3 linked regions of the Homo sapiens genome follow. The protein of the gene in region 1 interacts with the protein of each later gene in a biochemical or structural test. Each region holds a gene or a part of one and is shown in the gene's direction. Other genes may lie near its edges.

The links. The genes of interacting proteins can lie anywhere in the genome.
Region 2: the proteins of CD6 (region 1) and LGALS3 form a complex in vitro, tested with the Homo sapiens proteins (one study listed by IntAct).
Region 3: the proteins of CD6 (region 1) and ALCAM form a complex in vitro, tested with the Homo sapiens proteins (4 studies listed by BioGRID and IntAct).

What each region holds. Positions count from the first base shown.
Region 1 is NC_000011.10:60,974,664-60,981,695, forward strand, and holds part of CD6 (T-cell differentiation antigen CD6 isoform 1 precursor), read left to right. Parts: intron 1-7,032.
Region 2 is NC_000014.9:55,124,403-55,132,251, forward strand, and holds the start of LGALS3 (galectin-3), read left to right. Parts: upstream 1-4,849; 5' UTR 4,850-4,898; intron 4,899-7,849. Other genes in the region: uncharacterized protein LOC124903319, read left to right, coding at 648-702. UniProt on the Homo sapiens protein: Galactose-specific lectin which binds IgE. May mediate with the alpha-3, beta-1 integrin the stimulation by CSPG4 of endothelial cells migration.
Region 3 is NC_000003.12:105,530,877-105,537,908, forward strand, and holds part of ALCAM (CD166 antigen isoform 1 precursor), read left to right. Parts: intron 1-1,125; coding exon 1,126-1,190; intron 1,191-2,726; coding exon 2,727-2,814; intron 2,815-3,786; coding exon 3,787-3,969; intron 3,970-7,032. UniProt on the Homo sapiens protein: Cell adhesion molecule that mediates both heterotypic cell-cell contacts via its interaction with CD6, as well as homotypic cell-cell contacts. Promotes T-cell activation and proliferation via its interactions with CD6.

The sequences.
Region 1 (7,032 bases):
CCTCCAGTTCTCCGCCTCAGTTTCCTGATCAGCCAACTAAGGATGAAGGAACAGAGAGAATGAATTAGGAGCCCTTGACAGGGGAGGCTGGGGTGGCATCATGAGACCCCAGGTTCTGCCCTGGTCCCGTCTCTAATTCACCATTGACTGTGCTTCTTTTCTTCTCAGCCATGTTTTCTCATCAGTGGAAGGGGGGTGCTCTGTCAGACAATCTATAAGAAAGCTTTTGTCCAGATCTGACACTATGACGCAGTAACAAAGCCCCAGGCCTTTCCCGCCAGGGCAGTGCTGAGCTCCGTGACTCTAATGCCAGCTGTGCTCTGGCTGGCGAGGTCCTCGAGGGCTGCCTTTGTGTATGAAAAGGCTGTTTGTGGCTACTTTTGAAAAAAATAGTAATTCTTTAATTAACAATTTTTTAATAATTTGTTTTTTCTTAACTTGTGAGTTCAACATACTAATCATATTTTATTTTATAAGCCCTGTAATTTTGATTAATGACTTTCGATGGGCCTTTAATATTTGAGCAAATGAAGTTGAACAGACCTAGCATCCTTAAATAATAAATACCCTTACAAATGTAGCTAATCAAACTCCCTTGGTTCTGTGCTATTCCATAGGGTAGCCCCTACAATCACGCATTTAAAATGTGATGATAGTCCAAATTGAGATGTGTAAAGTGTAAAATATGCAACAGGTTTTGAAGATGAGTTTCAAGAAAGAATGTAAAATATTTCAACAAATTTTATGTGATTTATATGTCGAACTTATAATATTTTTGATATGATGGGCTAAATGAATTCTATTATCACAATTAAGTTTACATATTCCTTTTTACTTTTTAAAAATGGGGTTTCTGGTCTGGTGTGGTAGTTCACACCTGTAATCCCAGCACTTTGGGAGGCCAAGGCAGGAAGATCGCTTGAACCTAGGAGTTCAAGACCAGCTGGGGAAACATGGCAAAACCCCGTATCTCCAAAAAATACAAAATTAGCCTGAAGTGGTGGTACAAGCCTGTTGTCCCAGCTACTCGGAAGGCTGAGGTAGGAGGATGGTTTGAGCCCGGGAGTTTGAGGCTGCAATGAATGAGCCATTATTGTGCCACTTCACTCCAGTCTGGGCGATGAAGGAGACCCTGTCTCAATAAAAAAGTAGGGGGAGGGTTGTCCTGGAATATTTAAAATTACATGCGTAACTTGCATCATATTTATATTGGATAACACTGCTTTTGATATTCTAAGCACATTTATAAATATGATGAATTCCATATTTTATAGAGCATGAAACAAAATGTTCCCAAGAATTTTAGAAAATGCTTTTAGAACTAAAAAACTAGCATAAGTGAAGTGAATATTAAGTTATTTTTAAAATTTTTATAGATATGAGGGTAGAAGTGCAGTTTTGTTACACGGATATATTACGTAGTGGTGAAGTCTGGGATTATAGTGTACCCAGCACTGGAGTGTTGTACATTGTACCCAATAAGTAATTTTCATTCCTCACTCCCCTCCCATCTTCCCACCTTTTGGAATCTCTGATGTCTGTTACTCCATTCTGTATGTCCATGTGTGCACGTTGTTTGGCTCCTACTTATAAGTGAGAATGTGGTGTTTGACTTTCTGTTTCTGAGTTATTAAAGCGAATATCAAGTTCTCTTAAATATTCTAATGTTTACAGATATTGTCAAATTCTCTTAAATTTTCTACTTCAAAATTGAACCTAAGTCAATTACCTGCTCACATTCATGAGGAACTCAATGGCCAAATGTTTTTAAATATCACAAATATAGGACTTTATGCAACTCACGGAGCTTGACCCAACTTACATTTAACACCATTGGATATATACTATGAGTGTTTGTTTATTTAATCATCTCTATTTTCTAAATTCTAATCTTCCTGGGTTTAAAAGCCACTTACCAAGGAGGAAACAATGGCGCCATTGCAGGTAACTTGGGTTATGCCAAGCAGGTTGAAGTTTTTCCATCTCAGTGGACTGAGCTGAGGTCGGTGTTTTTGTTGTTTTGCCAAAACATAAGATATGGTTCCCCTGTGTTGCTGATGGATGCGCTTGTGCCCTTTTTGATAGTCCGTGCCCTCTAACTGGGCTGGCTCCTTGACCTATGAACTCTGAATCCAAGTTATACAAACCTAATCCCCTACATCTGCCGTGCATCTGGCCTTATTGTTTGATTGGACTGAATTAAACACACATGTTTACTTTTCTATTCTGACCTCTTTTCACATTCTTCCTGCCTGGCAAGACTTCATCTCATAGATACATAAATAATTTATGACAGGCTTCTGCATCTTTCTCCCGGCTTAGCTTGGCTCTCTGGCCACAGGTCAATGACTGATGACAGTTAGCGTGGCCTTCACCGTATTGGGGCCATGGAACGGGGTAGCTCCTAGGGTGCTGGAGCTCGAACTTTACAGAGGGATCTAGAATGAGTGAGAAATGCTGCCCATGGCCCTCCTCATTCAGACCACATTTATTAAGGCTTTATTTATTATATTTATAGAACACTCAAGAATTAAATTCAGTACCCAGCTGTTAGATTCTGAGTTAAGGAATCAGACTTCTCCCTGGGGCAAGGAGGAATAAACAGGTGGCCCCAACTGTCCTTTAGGACAGGAGCTTGGAGTGTAGACCTCCCAGGTGCGTGGCCATCCTCTCCCTGCCTGGACCACAGATGGGACACCATGAGCTTTAACATCCATGCCATGTGCTCAGGCCTGCCCTGAGCAGCCCCCTGGTAGGGCTGGGATCCCCAGGCTGTATCTACTTCCTCAGCTAGCAAGACCTCCAGGCCCTCCATCCTGTCCTCGGCACTGGCCCTTCTCCAGACTCAGAGCATGGTAAGTTATCCAGCATAGCTCTTCCCGGAGCACTTTATTCCAGCCCACCTTCCCAGTGTTGGCCAAGGTGTCATCCACCTGACAATTTACTTAACGTAATTTCCCTCCTTTTTCTTTCTTTCTTTTCTTTTTTTTTAGATGGAGTCTCGCTCTGTCGCCCAGGCTAGAATGCAGTGGTGCAGCTCACTGCAGCTTCAAACTCCTGGGCTCAAGGGATCCTCCCACCTCAGCCTCCCAAATAGCTGGGATTACAGGCGCCTGACACCATGCCTGGCTACTCTTTCTTAATTGATGTTTTAAAATGCAAATACATTTATTTTGAGAAGAAACTTTATATATCACTCCCTTAAATGGAAAGCCATTCATTATAAATCACCATCATGATTATAATGGTGAAAATAAACATAATGGAAATAAAACAATGTTACTAAATTCTAGCCAGATGCATTTGCTGCTTTCCCTTTCCTCAAAAGGGAGGGCTGTAGATGTCAGAGAGACTTTAAAGACTAACCCCATGGGAGATTTCCTCCTCCAAGTCTGTAATTAGAAAGGCTGAAAGGGAAATAAAGAGTATGCATAACTTCCTCATCATGTAATATAGTGGTATATAATGCCAAGTCAATGACCACCTAAATCAATTTTGCATAGTTTTGTGTATGTGCCCTAGACTTTGAAAACACTGATCCAGAGAAAGGACAAAGGGGGTGGGCATGGTGTCCCCTGACAAGACTGAGCCTGGGGACGCTGACTGCTCTGCAGCCTGGGGTTACGTCCTACACATGAGACCCCCATTTCAGGGGCTCCCCAGTACCCTGAGAAGTCCCTGGATTTTCCCAGTGAGCCCTGAGGTTGGGGGGCACCCGAGTTCACCTCCCTTGATTCCGCTCTGGGAATCTAGGCCCCTGCAGCCTGGGGAGGAGAAGGAACCTTGAGGAGGGGTGAGGTGGGTGTGGACTTTGAGAACTAGCTCTGGTCCTAACTTGCTGGGGAATCTTGGTCAAGTTCCTTCCTTTCTCTGGCCCTAGTTTCCTTTCTGGAAAACTGGGTAAATTGAACACTAAGGACCCAGCCTAAACATGCTTGTACTTTATGTATGTTCCTTGAGGCTTTACAGGTTATGGAGCAGGGCATCTGGCTGTACGCAGCAGAGACCCAGCCACTAGACACTTAGCCCTAGGAAGGGCACTGTATCAACCCCAGCCGGCATCCTGTCGTATAGAATCATGGACCCCGGAGTCAGGCAGACGCGGGTTCTGAATTGCATCTCTGCATGGCCCCAGGGTGGTTTCTTTGCCTGCATGCTAGAGATAAAAATCCCCAACTCACCAAAGTGTACAAGTTAATGTAGATGATGCATCTGAAAATAGCCGAACAAAATGCAGTGCTCAGAAATGTTAGCTTATAAATGCTCTACAGCAAGACCAAAGATAATCCCTTGCCTATGTGAATACAGGACTCGGTGGTTAACATAGTGCTGTTTGCACAATGAGCTCCATCACCCACATGGTGACCTCATTTTATAGATGAGGAAACTGAGGTTTAGCGAGGCTAAGAGACTTGTCAGGACCTGAGCTTGGGTCTCCCAGCCAGCAGGCTGGTGCTTTTTCCATTGTGTGGGAGTTGCCTGGCTTGTTTCCAGCCAGCTGTCCTGTGGGCTCTATTCTAGCATAGGGTTTCTCCCCTAAATGCAAACTCCTAGCCTTGCAGCCTCACCACTGAATCTAGGAACAGCCCTGAGGGACCTCTGAGGTCCTAGGGACCCTGGAAGTCTTCTTAGCAACAGATGGGGTCAAGTGTGGCTGCCTCCCTCATCATGGCACGCCCTCATGGGGTTTGCCTGGGGGTTGCCCTGCACCTTGGGGCCAGCAGGAAGGCAAAATTAAAGAGGCACCATGAGCCAGGGGAGAGCTTGCTGGGCAGCAGGCTCCATATTTTGTTTTGTTTTCTTTTTTTTTTTTTTCTTTTTGAGACGGAGTCTCAGTCTGTTACCCAAGCTGGAGTGCAATGCTGCGATCTCAGCTCACTGCAACCTCCGCCTCCCAGGTTCAAGCAATTCTCCTGCCTCAGCCTCCCGAGTAAGGGGACCATAGGCACCCACCACCATGCCCAGCTAATTTTTTTGTATTTTTAGTAGAGACGGGGTTTCACCATTTTGGCAAGGCTGGTCTTGAATTCCTGACCTCAGGTGATCCACCCGCCCGCCTCAGCCTCCCAAAGTGCTGGGATTACAGGTGTGAGCCACTGTGCCTGGCCTAGGCTCCATATTTTCATATTCATTCAGTACCTGCTGAGTACCAGGCCCTGTGCTGGCACTGCCATAGGACATGAAGGTTTGCCCTTGAACAGTTTATAGTGTTGTGGTAAGACACACCAGCACCACCCCGGGATAGGTGTGGCAACAGGCACAATCCAGTGACAGCTGCAACCACCACCCATTACCAGGGACTTAATATTCTCCAAGCACCAGCTATGCATATGCTGTTCCACCCTGACAACACCAGGACAATCACCCCTTTTTTATGGGTGGAGAAACTGAGGCTCAGAAAGTTATGTATTTTGTCCCAGGTTGGTGGCTAATGCTGAATTTAAATCCATGTCATGATATGTCACCACTGGGGGAAGCTGACTGATGGGTACACAGGATTTCTCTTCACTATTTTGGCAACTTCTTATGAGTCCATAGTTTGAAAATAAGAAGTTAAGGGGGAAAAAAGGATTTCAGCCCTTTCTGGTGACTCACACCTGTAATTCAGCACGTTGGGAGGCCGAAGTCCAAGAGTTCCAGAGCAGCATAGGCAACATAGTGTGACCCCCACGTTTACAAAAAATTAAAAAGTTAGCCGGATGTGAGATTCATGCCTGTAGTCCCAGCTACTCGGGAGGCTGAGGCAGAGAATGACTTGAGCCCAGGAGGTTGAGGCTGCAGTGAGCCATGATCTCACCACTGCACTCCAGCCTGGACAACGGAGCAAGACCTTGTCTCAAAAAAGAAAAAAAAAAGTATTTCAGAAAGAAGGACCCATTTGAAGGCCGGGTGCAGTGGCTCACGCCTGTAATCCCAACACTTTGGGAGGTCAAGTAGGGCGGATCACTTGAGGTCAGGAGTCCGAGACCAGCCTGGCCAATATGGCGAAACCCCGTCCCTAGTAAAGAAATACAAAAATTAGCCGGGTGTGGTTCGGGGGATGGGGGGCACCTGTAATCCCAGCTACCCGCAAGGCTGAGGGAAGAGAATCGCTTGAAACCGGGAGGCGGAAGTTACAGTGACCCAAGATCGCACCACTGCACTTCAGCCTATGCAACAGAGTGAGACTCTGTTTCAAAATAATTAATTAATTAATTAAATTGAAAGAAAGACCCATTTGAGCAGAAACCTGGAGGTGGGACAGCCTACGAGGGCCCGGCTGAGGGGAGGTGCTGACCAGCCAGTCCGGCTGGTCCTGTTGGGTCATGTTGGGTAGGCAGGACTGAAATTCCCAAAGGAGCTGAGGTCCAGGCTCTTTTCTGCCTCCTGACCCAGACTGGTGTGCCATGAGGATTCAATGAGCGCCAAGCACAGGGACTGGCCCACGGAAGGTGCGCCACAAAATGTACATTTACAAGTGTTAGGCAGGCAGTACAAGGATCACGTCCTCCAGTGCAGCACTCTGCAAATACGTAAACCTGCCTTCTCCTCGTCACAGCCCTAAGGAGGTATGCGCTACTATTTAATACTTCCATTTTACTGAGTAAGTGACAGGCTCAGAGAGATAAAGTGACTTTTCCTAGATCGCACCACTAATAGATGACAGATACTTGGTTTTACCTCATGACTCCAAATCCGTTGCTTTTTCCCAGCCCTGGAATTGGGTAGGGTTTGGGCCGGGGACCCCTCCCCACTCAAGACTCCTGCAGGAAAGGTCCGCCCTTCCCCCAGGGACTTTTCACCTCACCCACCATCAGCTGGGCCGTCATGGAACTTTATGGAGCCTGAGCTCTCCTCCTTCAGGCTGAGTGGCCATGCCCAGCCTTCGTTTCCCCGGCTGTAAAGCAGGGCCAACGGGAGCTCAGAGCTGTGTGGGGCTCCCCAGATGTTGGCGGTGACATGCTTGGAGAAATGCCAGGCTCCTTAGGGTGTTAGGAGAGACCTGTGGCCACAGCTGCTGCTCCGACTGGGACCGGGCAGGCGCTCCCAGGG
Region 2 (7,849 bases), on another chromosome or scaffold:
CAGTGAGCTAACGTGCATTTTTTCTATCAGCCAAGGGTCTAGAGAGAGCTGGGAGCAGGCAGATTGTGAGTTATTTGCGCAAGAGGGCTATGTGTCCTGGACCATGAAGAAAGGCAGACTTATAGCTTATCTGCCTTTTTTTTTTTTTTTTTTTTTTTAGACAGAATCTCACTCTGTTGCCCAGGCTGGACTACAGGCACCTGCCACCATGCCTGGCTAATTTTTGTATTTTTAGTAGAGATGGGGTTTCACCATGTTGGCCAGGCTGTTCTCGAACTCCTGACCTCAAGCGATCCACCCATCTCTGCCTCCCAAAGTGCTGGGATTACAGGCGTGAGCCACCGCGCCCAGCCTGCTGTCTCTTTTTGCTTTCCCTTGATCCCACCAGCCCAATTCTCCACTTCCCCCAGCCCCCAATTAGGACTCCACAATTCTCCCAACTCCACTTAAGGTGAGAGGTCATGAAGTGCTAGCTCGGTTGCCGGGCCACTTTATGAGGATGGCAGGGAGGGGATTCTGAGAGGAGTGGACAGGAGGTGCCCCATGGGTGTCTATGCTGGCACAGGTCCCTGTTGCAACTCACAGTGTTATTCTTGCCATTCCCACTTTCTCGGATCTTTACAAGCCTGCCCCTACTCCTTATTTAGGTCTCAGCTCAAATACCACCTCCTTGGAGAAATCTCTGCTGACCACACTTGCTGAACTGACAGCCAGCTCCTCCCCTGCCCTTCTCTGATATGGGATGAATTGTGTCCCTCTCTCTTTGCAAAAACATTTATGTCAGTACCATCCGAGCCCCGGATACGTCAGAATGTGACTGTTTTTGGAGATAGGGCCTTTAAGGGGGCAATTAAGTTAAAATGAGGTCTTAATCTAATACGAATGTGTCCTTCTAACAAGAGGAGATTAGGACACAGACAGGCATATAAGAAAGACCATGTGAAGATATAGAGAGACGTAAAAGCCAAGGAGAGAGGCCTCAGAAGAAACCCACCCTTCCAACATCTGATCTTGGACTTCTGGCCTCCAGAATTGGGAGAAAATAAATTTCTGTTATTTAAGTTACTCAGTTCCTGGTGCTTTGTTATGGCAGCCTTAGCAAGCTGGCACACTCTCTATCCCTTTCCCTGGTTTTATACTTCCTCAAGAGGCAGGTTAATGCTGTAGCGTGGTTAAGAGCGTAGCCCTGGGTGTGGCTGCAATAAGGGCAGTAGTAGTGGCAGCAGCCACTTCCTGTCTATAGACAGAAGTGACTGGTGGGAATGTGGGTTTGGTGATGGCTAGTGCTGAAGACAGGCCTGGGTTAGGCTTGAAGGACAAACAAGGAAGGTTAGGCTGAGGTGGCCAGGGCTGAGGTTGGGCTGGAGAAGGGGTTTTGCACCTGCGGTGGCACCTGGGACACCTCTTCTCCCTGATGCTGTTGGCCTGCCCATCCAAGGCAGGAGGGGCTAGCTCCCTTCTAAGCAGGTTCTGGCTCTCACTCTGTCCCAGGGGGCTCTAGTTGCAACCCAGGTGGTAAGACCTTGTAAACCATCATTGGGCACATTACTGCCACCAACCCTATTTCATTTGTTGACCAGGTTTTGGTGAGCCTGTTCATTCAGCAAGCTAGAAGGGGTGGATTTTGCAAAATAGTTGAGGCATATATTAGGCCCCCACTAAAGGCCTTGGATATGAGTAAGTACATATAGATAACTGGGACTAGAAACAGCAGACAGCCACAGTCATTTCGTTCTGAAACTGGAAATTACTTTGTCTTCAAGGCATAAATGGTTCCCCAGAACACTCAGCCTCTCTTTCAGTCCCTAAGTCTGCCAGCCACCCAGATTCCAGTTGTTGGCACCAGAAAGACCAAGTGCCCTGAGGCCTGACTCAACTCTTCACTTGTCACCCAGATGTGTTAACACCATGTAGACACAGAATTGCCAAACTTGCCTGGGCTGCCCAGGGTCCAAATGTGAAAACTGGAAAGCAGCCGCTTTGCTCTTTTCTGGCTGTTCCTGTATTCTGCTGTCTACACGACTTAATACCAAGATTTTTGTTTATATTTCATAGGAACTTCAGCTTTTGTGAGACATTCTTTCCCTATCTGGCCCACTGTAGTGCTAATTTCTGGGAAATTTCTCTCCTCTTTTCTGGCTTGTTCCAGGTTCACTCACTTTTTATATTTTCATAATTCTTCTATTCTCCTCTCTTTTTCCTTTCTCTCTGGTTCTATTTTCCTATTTAAAAGGTGACTTTAAAAAACTGGCTTTGCTGCCGGGCGCAGTGGCTCACGCCTGTAATCCCAGCACTTTGGGAGGCTGAGGTGGGCAGATCACCTGAGGTAGGGAGTTTGAGACTAGCCTGACCAACGTGGAGAAACCCCATCTCTACTAAAAATTGGCCAGGGTGGTGGTGCATGCCTGTAATCCCAGCTACTGGGGAGGCTGAGGCAGGAGGAGAATCACTTGAACCTGGGAGTGGAGGTTGCGGTGAGCCGAGCAAAACTCCGTCTCAAAAAAATAAAATAAATAAATAAATAATCGGCTCTGCTTTCTTCTCCAATTACTGTCTTTCTTTCTCTTTTCTGCTTATCCTTAAAGACTTTCCCTTTTTGTTCTCATCTTCATCTCCTACTCTCTTCTGGCTCTAACTGAAGTTCTCACGCAGCTTCCCTCCTGACCTTCTGGACAGCCACCTGCTTTCCCAAGTTTCCTCCTTTCCCTCCTGTGGAGATGCCTCTCTTAGAATCCTTGCTTTTATCAGCGGCTTACAATCTCTGCATCCGTAGAAACCAGACAGCCTTTTTGTTTGAGGGCTAACACTTGCCTTGTCCCTATTTCAAATAACACAGTGAGCTGTACATAGAAGTTACTCAATGATATCTTAATTGATTTTATTGGGTTCCTTTTTACGCTTATCTTAGAAAAGGGATGTGACTTTGGATTGGGTAATAAAGAGCCGTTTATTGCATGTGTACAAATTATAAATTCCCAGGCACACCCTGATCATAGCAGGATCCTTTTGTTAGCTTTATGGGGCATGAAGTTGGCACCAAAGTATTCATGGGGATGTACAAGTAAGGAAGGGAAGCCAAAAGCATGTCTGATCATACAATCAGGTGTAAGCAAGCCCCCTAAGTAGCCAGGGCATGAACTTTGTCTATCTCTGAAATGACCAGAAGAAAAGGCAAGAGTGTGATTCATCCCTTGCCTCCACAGCAATTCATTTGGCTATCTACTTTTCTTATTACCAATGGCTAACCCTCTAAGGGTACCACTCCTGGCCATGAGGCCTCATGACTCAAAGTCTTAAGATTTATAGCATTTTCCCTGGAGACCAAGGGCATTCCTTTGGGTGATACCTTTTTACTACCCAGAGGTTAGTCATTTACTATGGGTGATCCATTCAAATAAATTGGTTGCCAGGCTACCTCTTCAGATAAGAGTTCAAACTTGCATAAATAATCCCCAGCCACACTGTGACTTCTATGTGCAAGCCTAGAGGGGACGATGTTGCAGGAACCGTGCCAACCACTAAGACACTTTCAAGTTTATCCTAGAGAATGCCAAGACAGCTTCTCAATTCCATCAAGTGAGTCCTTCACAGGAACATTTCCCTAAGTTGAAAAACTGCAGGAAATAATTTATCTTTATGTTATTAATTGGTTACTATAAGGGCTACAGGAATTATTTAGGAACCAGATGATACCTGGTTTTCTCCATAGTTTACATAAGCCAGTCCCTGCAAAGATTCTTCCCCTACCCCCCTTAATTTTTTTTTTTTTCCTCAGAGATCCTTGTTCCAACCTGCAAGGATTCTTTGGCCTGGTGCTTTTCCAGGTAAAGTGTAAGAGCCAGGATTTCTGGATTTTGTTCCTAGACATGAGTGAGCTTGGATAAGTAAATCATTTTCTCTTTTAGTCTGTTTGGGCTTCTGTAACAAAATATCATAAACTGGGTAGCTTATAGGCAATATACATTTATTTCCCACAGTTCTGAAGGTCGGGAAATCCAAGATCCAGGCCAGCAGATTTGATGTCTGGTGAGGGCCTGCTTTCTGGTTCACAGAGGGAGCCTTCTGGCTGTGTCTTCACAAGGTGGAAGTGGCAAGGGGTCTCTCTCCGGCCTCTTTTATTAGGGCACCAATCTCATTCATAAGGACCCTGCCCCTATGACCTAATCACTTCCCAAGGCCTCCACTTCCTAATACATCACCGTGAGGGTTAGGATTTCAACATATGAACTTTGGCGGGATATAAACATTCAGACTATAGCACCCTGACAGTAAAAATGAGATAATAATACTTATCTCTTTCTTCCAACAAAAAGATAAGGTGAAGTTAAAAGGAGGGTATATATATATATAATGTGAATTTCCTGTGTAAAATGTGTTAAAGAGTTGTCTGATTAATTGCTTTATAAGGGAATTGCTTTGAGACTAGGCCTATTGATCTAGAATAAGTAGTCAATTTGTAGTCAGTTCCCTAGGGAATAGACATTGAAAAGATTTTTGGTTTTGTATTCTACAAATAAAGCAACCTATTAATTGAATTCCTCTCAGCGAATTCTTCACTCAGGTGATTCTGGAGAGGGCGGGGGACAGACGCGGCCGCAGCCCAGGTCCCGGGAGCGCCACGGAACCTAACGGTGGCAGCGGAGGTCGCGCCCCTCAGTGCCCGCGCTCTCCCCGTCGGGAGCTTCCTGGTCGCCCCTGCGGCGGCGGCTCGGGGTGTCTGGCCGGCGCGGGGCTCGCCCAGCCTGGTCCGGGGAGAGGACTGGCTGGGCAGGGGCGCCGCCCCGCCTCGGGAGAGGCGGGCCGGGCGGGGCTGGGAGTATTTGAGGCTCGGAGCCACCGCCCCGCCGGCGCCCGCAGCACCTCCTCGCCAGCAGCCGTCCGGAGCCAGCCAACGAGCGGTGAGCTGCGCGGGGCGCGGGGGACGCGGCTCCGGCCGGGCAGGGGAGAGGGCGCCCGGGCGCTGCTTGGGGCGCGGTCCGGAGAGGGTTCGGCTCCCCGGGACCGGGCCGGGGCGCGCGCGGAGAGCCCCACAGCCTGTGCTCTGCCCTCCAGGAGCGGGGCGGCGGGCAGCGATCTGGGCCCGGGGCAGTCGCCTTTGATTATCGAGGGCGCTGGCGTTCGGGGAAGGTTGGCAGCACCTTACGAGACCCACACACGTCCCCGGGGCGGCACGGGCCACCTTCTGCGGAGCCTCGTGGGCTTCGCCGCCGTCGCACCTCCGCCGCCTGCGCTCTGCGGCCCCAGAGTAAGCCCCATCCGGTGACGAGCCGCAGTCTGGTCACCCCAGTCCCACCAGGTCCCGCTGCGAGGGGAGGCGGAGGGGCTCGCTCAGCAAACCAGACGGCCGCTCCAGTTTCTCTAATTGGGGTTGGAGCCCCGTCACCCTTCCCCAGATCACGGCCGCGGGGGAGCGAAGGGACTTCCCAGGACTGCATAGGGCGCCTCCCGGGACCCACAGCTTGGCTGGCCCGGCCCCTTTTGAGCATCAGCTGAGGCTGGACTTGGAGGAGATCTCGCTGTGGAGCGCGAATGAGTTCTTCCACCGGGACCAGCTGCGGCCGGGCTGCAGCCGCTGTCTGGTTGCTGATCCCACAGAAAATGGTGCTTGCCCCATGGCCTGAGTGGGCATGACCCGGCTTTGCAAAGACTGCAAACTCTAAGCTTTTCCGAATCAAATGCCCCTCCCTGCCCAGACTGTCTGTGCCCAGGAAATGGTGGGTGTGGCAAAATGTTGGTCCTAGCGTGCAGAGCCCTACCGGGGGGCTTTCACAACATGTTTGAGAGTTTATTCTGAATTATCGGGTGCTCAAATAGAAACACTAAAACGATTGCCCTCTGAGCAGTAGGCGTTCAGGTCCAGGGAGTCGGGGACGCATGGTGGAGGCTGGGACTTAGGTTTCAGCCTTACCCTTCAAGTTCGCCATGCGGGTTCCAGAGACTGCGGAATGTTTGTAAAGTGACTCTGGGAATTGGGTTGCTGCGCAATGAGGACACCTGGACCTCAGTGACTCAGGCTGTCTCTAGGATTCTGGGGAAGAAATGGGAGAAGGCTCAGTTAATTCTGAAGAAAATGAGACTGATACAATTAACTACTTGGGCACAGGGCCTGAGAAGAAAAAGCTTTCGTCAGCTTCCAAAGTTCTGATTTGTTTACCTAAGGTTTTTTTTTTTTTTGAGACGCAGTTTCGCTCTTGTTGCCCAGGCTGGAGTGCAACGGCACTATCTCGGCTCACCGCAACCTCTGCCTACCGGGTTCAAGCGATTCTCCTGCCTCAGCCTCCCGAGTAGCTGGGATTACAGGCATGCGCCACCATGCCCGGCTAATTTTGTATTTTTCGTGGTGGTGGTGGTGGGGGGGGGGGGGTCCCTCCATGTTGGTCAGGCTGGTCTCGAACCCCCGACCTCAGGTGACCCGCCTGCCTCGGCCTCCTAAAGTGCTGGGATTATAGGCGTGGGCCACTGCGCCTGGCCTACCTCAAGTTTATAAACATTTCATACTAGGAAATTGTGTGTTTCCATAAAAGGTAAAGTTGAATAATGATCATTTACTTTTCTACAACAATAGTCTCCCTTTTAGACATTGACTCTCAATCCTTAGGGTAGGGTCTCTCATTCTAAAGATGATCATACCCCATCCTTGATCTTTGGGGGACTTAAGCAACTTCCTAAATTCATAATATTTAGAGGTGATGTTTAAAATCAGCACTTAGTCCAGATTCTGGGGAGAAGTTTGATGATGGTCCTTGAATATTTAGCACTTAGAAGTGCTAGGAGGATGCCTCACTAAGTTACGTAAGAAGCAGAAGAGGACGAGTACCGCCTGATGGATTGACCCCGAAAACTAGCTGTGTCCAAGTAGAATAGGTGTCTCGCTCTGTTAAGCGGTCTTTAAACTATGATAGTTCGCTGTACTACAAATATGCATAGGTGCTTTACAAAGACTTTTCACTTAGTGAGGTCAAGAGGCTAATGCTGGTCTCATGTATAATTTAGGTACCTTTTTACATAGAACCCTCATTAGCCAGACTCTAAACCTTAACTGCAGCCAAGACCTTTGTTCATGTAGTATGCCTTCAGAATCTCGTGTTGACCTTAAATGCCAAGTGGCTTGTAAACTTATGTACTTGATACTTGTGGTAACTGATCTCAAACATAGCTCTTCTTTCCTGTGATCGTTTGGGACACAGGCTCCCACTCAAGGGTAGCTCCTTGTGTCTGGTGCCTGAACTGGATCTTCTCATTAAATTCTGAGTGGGTAACTTAAGAACCAGTCTAGGCTGTGCTTGCTGTATACTTCCAGTTCGCTATTGACCAAGTGTCATGTGTTCTCTTTTGAACTGTTCAGCTTTTCCGTAGGGGGGAAGATCAGTCATGAGAAGCAGAAAGTAACTCTACCTTCCTTGATGCCAGGGAGCTATGATGAGAAAGAAATCCTAGGAAAGGACCAGTTCCCCTTATTCCAACTTAGCATCACTGAATTTGTCTTTGGCAAATGGGCTTTCCTCAAGTCCTGCTCTGTGTTTCAGCAAGGACAGGAAGTAGACTGCCTCTTGTGTTACTTGAGGAGCAGTGTAGGGCAGTGCCTAGGGGCTCAGGAAGTAGTCTTCTTCTGTGACGGTTGCGCACAGGTCAGGGACCTTTATGAGCAGACATTTCAGAAGTGTTCCTGGGAACCCAGACAACTGGACTGATTGCTGGGTGGGCCTAGAATAGCATAGTGCAGCGGATAGCTACTCTTTGTTAAAGGGAAAAGCTACCAATTAACAGCCGATTAAAATGGTCTGTATTCTAACTCATGTTTAAATTCCTTATTCTGAAGCTACACTGAACTGCTTACTGTAGGTGTTTA
Region 3 (7,032 bases), on another chromosome or scaffold:
TTTTCTATAATGATCTAGGGAGGTAACATGTCTAATAACTGAATTCCAAATTGAGTAATAATTATACAAAAGCCAATTTAGTTTAGTTTGGTAATCAAAATTAAAAGTATTAGGTGGTAAACAATAAGACTATAAAAGAAAAAGTAGCTGATTGTTTAAATACATTTGCTTATAAGAAAATAGAATAATTTTGGTCCATGAGACTCACAAACATCAGTGACAATGAGGCAATATACTTTTTGTGTAAACTAATTGTTGGAGCTATTTAAAAAGCGCAAAATCCATCATTGATAGAAAATAGCAGCTAAGAATAAAATAACTTAAAATCAGTTTAAATAATAAATTGTTGCTGCAACTTTTAATCAATTGCTCCTGAAGTCTTTATTAAAATTTATGTTTCTTAGAACTACCTATATTTAAAATGTTTTTGTCCATCATCTCAGGTTCCACATTTGAAAGATTTTCTCACATTTACACTTTCATATTGTGACTTGGCTTAAGAGGTAAAGTTAGAGATATTTCAGAAATTTGGGTTTATAAATTCCTTAACTTGCTTTCTATTTCCCATGATTTTAGAACAGTGTTTCTCAAACTTTATGGTGACTGAGAATCCCCTAGAAACTTGTTTAAAATGTAGAGTTATGGGATTTTTTTTTTTCAGGAATTCTGATTCAGTAGGCCAAATAGGGCTCAGAAATCTGAATTTTAAACAAGTATCTTTGTGATTCTGGTTCATGTAAATTAATGTCTTCAGTTAATGAGCTGGAAGTTACTGATAAGTAAGAAGTGCTCATGGTAATCAATTAGAGACAATATATCCTATATAGGACATTAGCCCCTGTTTCACTATCAAATCCATATTCACTATTTATAAAGCATTCAGAAAGCATTATTTATATTTTATTCAAAGGAATTACAAGCACTGAAAATAATATTTAAGATAATAAATATTTGAAGGGGTAGACCTATAGATTCCCCAAATCCAGATTGTATAACGAAATCTATTTTTATTCTGTTGCTTATTCTTCTGTATTGAGTAAATGAATTGTTTTTGCTGTGAATCAAATCACAGAAGTCCCGTTTTTCTTACATATGTACTTAAAATCTTTCTCTGCTTAACTTTAGAGCAACCATCTAAACCTGAAATTGTAAGCAAAGCACTGTTTCTCGAAACAGAGCAGCTAAAAAAGGTAAGAATTGTTTTTGATTAATACCTTTATTTAGCCAGTGTTGTAAGTGCCTTCTTCTGACCTTACATTCCAAGACAAGTAAGAAAGGCTTTGCTCTTGTGGAGATGACAGTGTTGCAGCTACCAATCAGAAATTATCTACAAGGCACAGAGGGTACAACATGCTCACAGTCTCAGGTAACCATGAGGACATCAAGGAAGGTGGGGTCATTTCTGAAAAGAGGAGTCTTTCTCATTTGAATTAATGGATTGTTTAATAGAAGGATGAAGCCAGTTAGCATGATTCATGCCTGTAAGCCCAACAGTTTGGGAGGTTAAGGTGGGAGGATCACTTGAGCCCAGGAATGTACAGCATGGCAAGACCTTGTTTATAAAAAATATTTAAAAGTTAGCTGGGCATAGCGGTACATGCCTGTGGTCCCAGCTGCTTGGTAGGCTGATGCTTGGTAAGGAGGACTGCTTGAGCCTAGGAGGTCAAAGCTGCAGTGAGCCATGTTTGCACCATTGCATTCCATTGTGGACGACAGAGCCAGACCCTGTGTAGAAAAAATATATAGAGAGAATGATGAAAGATGAATAGATTTTCACCAAGCCAAAGGTAGAAATGGCTTTCCAACAATATGAAATAATAGGATGTGAAAGAGAACGGTGTGTTTGGGAAACAGCAAATTTTGGCATTGATGAAACTGGGTGCCAAGACAGAAAACAAGAAAGGATAGAAAGAGATGAATCTGGAGAGGCAAAGAAAAGTTGGATCATGACAAATCTTACATACTAAATAGGGAGTTTGGACTTTATTCTGTTGGCAAATTATGCTACTGAAAGATTGAAGTAAAGAGGTGAGATCAGATTCGAACAACACATTAGCAGATATGTGAAGGGAAGCTGTATTAAAGTGGGGGACAAAGTTGGAGTTCCATATTGAATAATAATGTAACTAAAATACCAAAGTTTTCCTTTGTTGGGAGATGGAAACCCAAGTCCTACATTCTTTGTGTCATATTAAATTTTACTGCATAAAATTATTTGATGAATACCAAATATTAAAGTTAAAATACATTTAAAGAAAGTGAGGGGAATTATAGAGCATGATAATGTATATCCTCTTGAAATATATGTAGTATGAAACTGGAGACACAGCCCCATTTTAACACCAAATTATTCTTCCGTATGAAGATCTATGATTCATGGTAATAGTCAGTGTTAATAGAGTAATGTTATTTGGTTAATGTTAAAAATGAATAGTGTCAAAATGAATTTGGCAATGCTTTCAAATGAATGTGATTTTATAATAGTGACACCATCTATTGCACATTTAAAAATCGTCAAAAGTATATTTTCAAATAAATTGTTAAAAAGGTCTTAAAAAGACATTGTTTTTATACCAGAGAGCATGTATTCAGTCTTTGGTCAGTGTTGGAAAATAAACGGGTCAAGAAACCCTTGGAATAACTCTGCATTGCCTGAGTTTCTGGAGTTTCCAAATTGACAGCCCCTGATTGAACCAAGGTAATAACATTGCCTTTTTATTTTGCAGTTGGGTGACTGCATTTCAGAAGACAGTTATCCAGATGGCAATATCACATGGTACAGGAATGGAAAAGTGCTACATCCCCTTGAAGGAGGTGGGTGTGAGGGCAGGAGGACAGGGAGTACATTCAGAGGACCTGTTCTGACTTTCTTTGTTCTAGGTATTCTTTAAACCAGTGGTCTCCAACCTTTTTGGCACCAGGAACTGGTTTCATGGAAGACAATTTTTCTTTGGATCAGGGTGGGGGGATGGTTTCAGGGTGATTCACAGGCATTAGGTTTATTGTGTACTTTATTTCTATTATTATTACATAGTGATATATAACAAAATAATTATGCAACTCACCATAATGTAGAATCAGTGAGAGCCCAGAGCTTGTTTTTCTGGAACTAGACAGTCCCATCTAGGGGTGATGGGACACAGTGACAGATCATCAGGCATCAGATTCTCATAACAAGTATGCAACCTAGATCCCTCATATGTGCAGTTCACAGCAGGATTTGCATTCCTGTAAGAACGTAATTCCACAACTGATCTGACAGGAGAAGGAGCTCAGTCAGTAATGTGAGCCATGGGGAGTGGCTGTAAATACAAAAGAAGCTTCTTGTGGTTGCCCACCGCTCACCTCCTGCTGTTTGCACCCATACCAGTCCTGGAGGTTGGAGACCCCCGCTTTAAACTATTCAGGATCTAAATATGTTGCCCTCTTTTGAGCTATGACTCTTATGCTCTGTTACTTTAAGTATGTACTAAATTAATACATGATTTTTTAAACATCATTTTCAGCCCTTGTACAGAAGAATCAAGAGCAGAGGAAATAATTTCTGTATATGGCATGATCTAGAAGTTAATTAAGTGAGTGGGAAAAGGGATTCCAGGATTCTATTTCTGTGTCTCTGATTCACGGTTTTGAAACGACATCTAACCTCACTACATGTCAATTTTCTCTCCTGCTGAATACAGTTAGAAGGAAAAAAAACACTTCTCAAAGGTGTGGTGCTGTTTCGTTAAGGATTGTGATTGTCAGATGAAAGACCCTATCATCAGTGTTCTTTATTTTCTTCAGCGGTGGTCATAATTTTTAAAAAGGAAATGGACCCAGTGACTCAGCTCTATACCATGACTTCCACCCTGGAGTACAAGACAACCAAGGCTGACATACAAATGCCATTCACCTGCTCGGTGACATATTATGGACCATCTGGCCAGAAAACAATTCATTCTGAACAGGCAGTATTTGATATTTACTGTAAGTAATTCAATATATAATTATGCTATTTAATGTATTAGAAATAATATTCAAATGCTATTAATCTTTGAGGTCCCAATCCAATTACTCTTTGAATTCTGCTTCCAGTCTGCACCCCAAATTGATGGCACCCAAATAATCTCTTCCTCTTTAGGAGACCATAGCATGAATAAACATTTATCCATCCTATAATATCTTTCACTCTCTACATTTTATCTATGAGTGTCTCTTCTGAATTCCACTACACACTAAGTTCTTTAAAGATAAGATCTATAACTTATTTTCTGGATGAATGACAGACAAATATAGACTTTAACTGGCTTTCTAAATAAGAGATTACCATTTTAATGAAGAAATTTATTTTAATAATAAGATCAATTGCATAAGTTTGATAGGATGTTGTATTACAAGACATTTTACTTAACTAAATTGTGTATTTGAAACAGAGTATTTGTCTACAAAGGAATCTTCATGGTCATCTGTTCTAACTTCATTATTTTAGTTAGTAAAGTGAGGCACAGAGTCTTGCCCTAAATTAGCTGTAGATATTAGAATAGAATCTTTTTCTCCATTGCTGTGCTTTCCTTGTAAGACAGGTGCCAAGATAATCTAATGATTAGAAGCAAAAATTCTGGAATTCTAGTCCCAGCATTATCAATTACCATTTCTTGAAAAGTAGCTTAATTACTCTACATCTCAGTTTTCTTACTTTAAAATGGGAAAAATATAATACCTAACTGATAGTGTTGTTATAGAGAGTAAGTGAAATCACAAATCAAAAATAGCATGCTACATCACACATTAAATTGTCATTATTAAGTACTTTATTATTATTATTATATGGTCATTATCACAATATAAACATAGAGCTGAAGATATTTGGGGGGAAAATGCAATAAAGGATTTTCTTCTTATTATTAATTTATCTAAAATTTTTGTGATACTGGCATGTGTTCTACAGTAACCTAGCACTTCTACATCTATTTTAGAGAAAAGCCAGGAATGCCTGCTGAGCCTTTCGAAAGAATCACCTCACCTACATTTCTTTTTTTGGTTCCCTAGGGCACAATATCTTATATGAGAACAAAAGTGAAATTCTTCCAAAGTTGCCCTAATATTAAAAGGTAGTTTTGCCTTAAACTTGGGAAATAAGTTTCAACTTGATTTAAACCCAAGAAATTAATATTTCATTATGTATAGCTTATCTAAAATCAAACTTTTTTAGGTGAAGGCAGAATTCTTTCTTTCTTTTTTTTTTTTTTGTGTGAGACATAGTCTCACTCTGTTGCCCAGGCCAGAGTGCAGTGGCGTAATCTCAGCTTACTGCAACCTCCACCTCTTGAATTCAAGTGCTTCTCCTGCCTCAGCCTCCCAAGTAGCTGGGATTAGAAGCGCATGCCACCACACCCTGCTGATTTTTGTATTTTTAGTAGAGGTGGGGTTCCACCATGTTGGTCAGGTTGGTCTCGAACTCCTGACCTCAGGTGATCTGCCCACCTCAGCCTCCCAAAGTACTGGGATTACAGGTGTGAGCCACCAAGCCCGGCCCAGAATTCTTTCTGTTAGAAATATTCAATTGGAAATAAACCATATTAGTGTAAGTGTAGGTGTACAACACAGGAGAGAACATCAAGATAAGTAATAAGAATTGGGAAATTGGCTTCAGAAAGAATAGAAATATCTGTGAGTATGAGGCATGCAGAGTTGGGTAGACGGAGAAGTTCTTGAATGGATACGAAGAAAATGATTTTATCATGCTGGCTGTGTAAGGTGCACTTGTCATGGCTTTTAAGAAGCCACAGTGGGCTTCATGGTGAAAACACGAAGCACAAAGAAGCAGTTTAAGACAGTCCTCACATTCAAGGAGTGTACTACTCCAGTAGAGAAACAAGACACCTACATCAGAAGGAAATTGCCAATGCAAGGTTGTAAGGGTAAAAGTCTTAGGAACTCAGTATTAAGAGTCTTGAGGGCTCAGGTGCCCAAGGACAGTGGTTCTCAAACTGTAGTGTAAATCAGAAGAACATGAAGGACTTGTTAGAGCACAGATTACTGCACCCTGGCCTTGAGTTTCTGATTTAGTGGGTATAGGACGGTGATTGACACTCTGCATTTGTAACAAATTCCCTGATGGTGCTAATGCTGCTGATCTGAGGACTACGAGTGGAGAACCACTGCTCTAGGAAGACTTCAGAGAACAGAAGAAGAGTGCTAAATGGAAAGGAGAGACGAGTCCATTTCAAGAAAAAAAAATTGGCCAATTCATCTTGAGAAAGCTTGAGAAAAATGCACCAGTCCACTCCTTTCTTACCCTATTCAATCAGTAACGAGGTTTTAGAGAATCTAGCTCTTTAATCTTTGTTTTGATCTGATTTCTGCCTTCTGACACTGCCTACGTTTATGCCACCATTCCTCATTGCCTCTATTCCTGCGATGGATTTCAAAGTAGTATTTTTCCAATGAATTGCAAAATAGTATTTCTCTTGTCTGCCCACCATTCTCTGTTCACCCCCAAATAAACTGCCCTCCAAACTGCTGCCAGAAATATTTTTCTAAAACACAAATGTGACAAAAACTTCTCAGTGACTCCCCAGAGCTCTCAGATTAATATCCTTCCCCCTCCCCCAATTGCAGTATGCCTTGAGTTCGTTTTAGCCATGGTCCTACAGTATGTCTCAACCCTCATCACTGCCTGTATCCACTGTGGTCTGTTCTACTTTCCAGATTCCTTCTGTAGAGTAATACTTACATGCCTATGCATATGCTGTCATTTTCCCACCTTTATCATTTAGCAAATACCCATTTATGTGTCAAAACCCAGCTCCAGGGTCAGTTCCTCCAGGAAGCTTCCTAGTCTCATGTAATGATGGCTACCAGGATCCCTATGCTTGTGTCATATGCAGGTTTTATGTGGTCATACTCTTAATTATTAAGTTTGGTGTCTTTACAAATAGAGGAAAAGTTCATTGAGGCAGGGTTTTCAACTTCCTAATTCCAGCACTTAAGGCTTGCACAATATAGATGCCAAACAAATGAATAAATGAAGAAGGACTGTAGGATAAA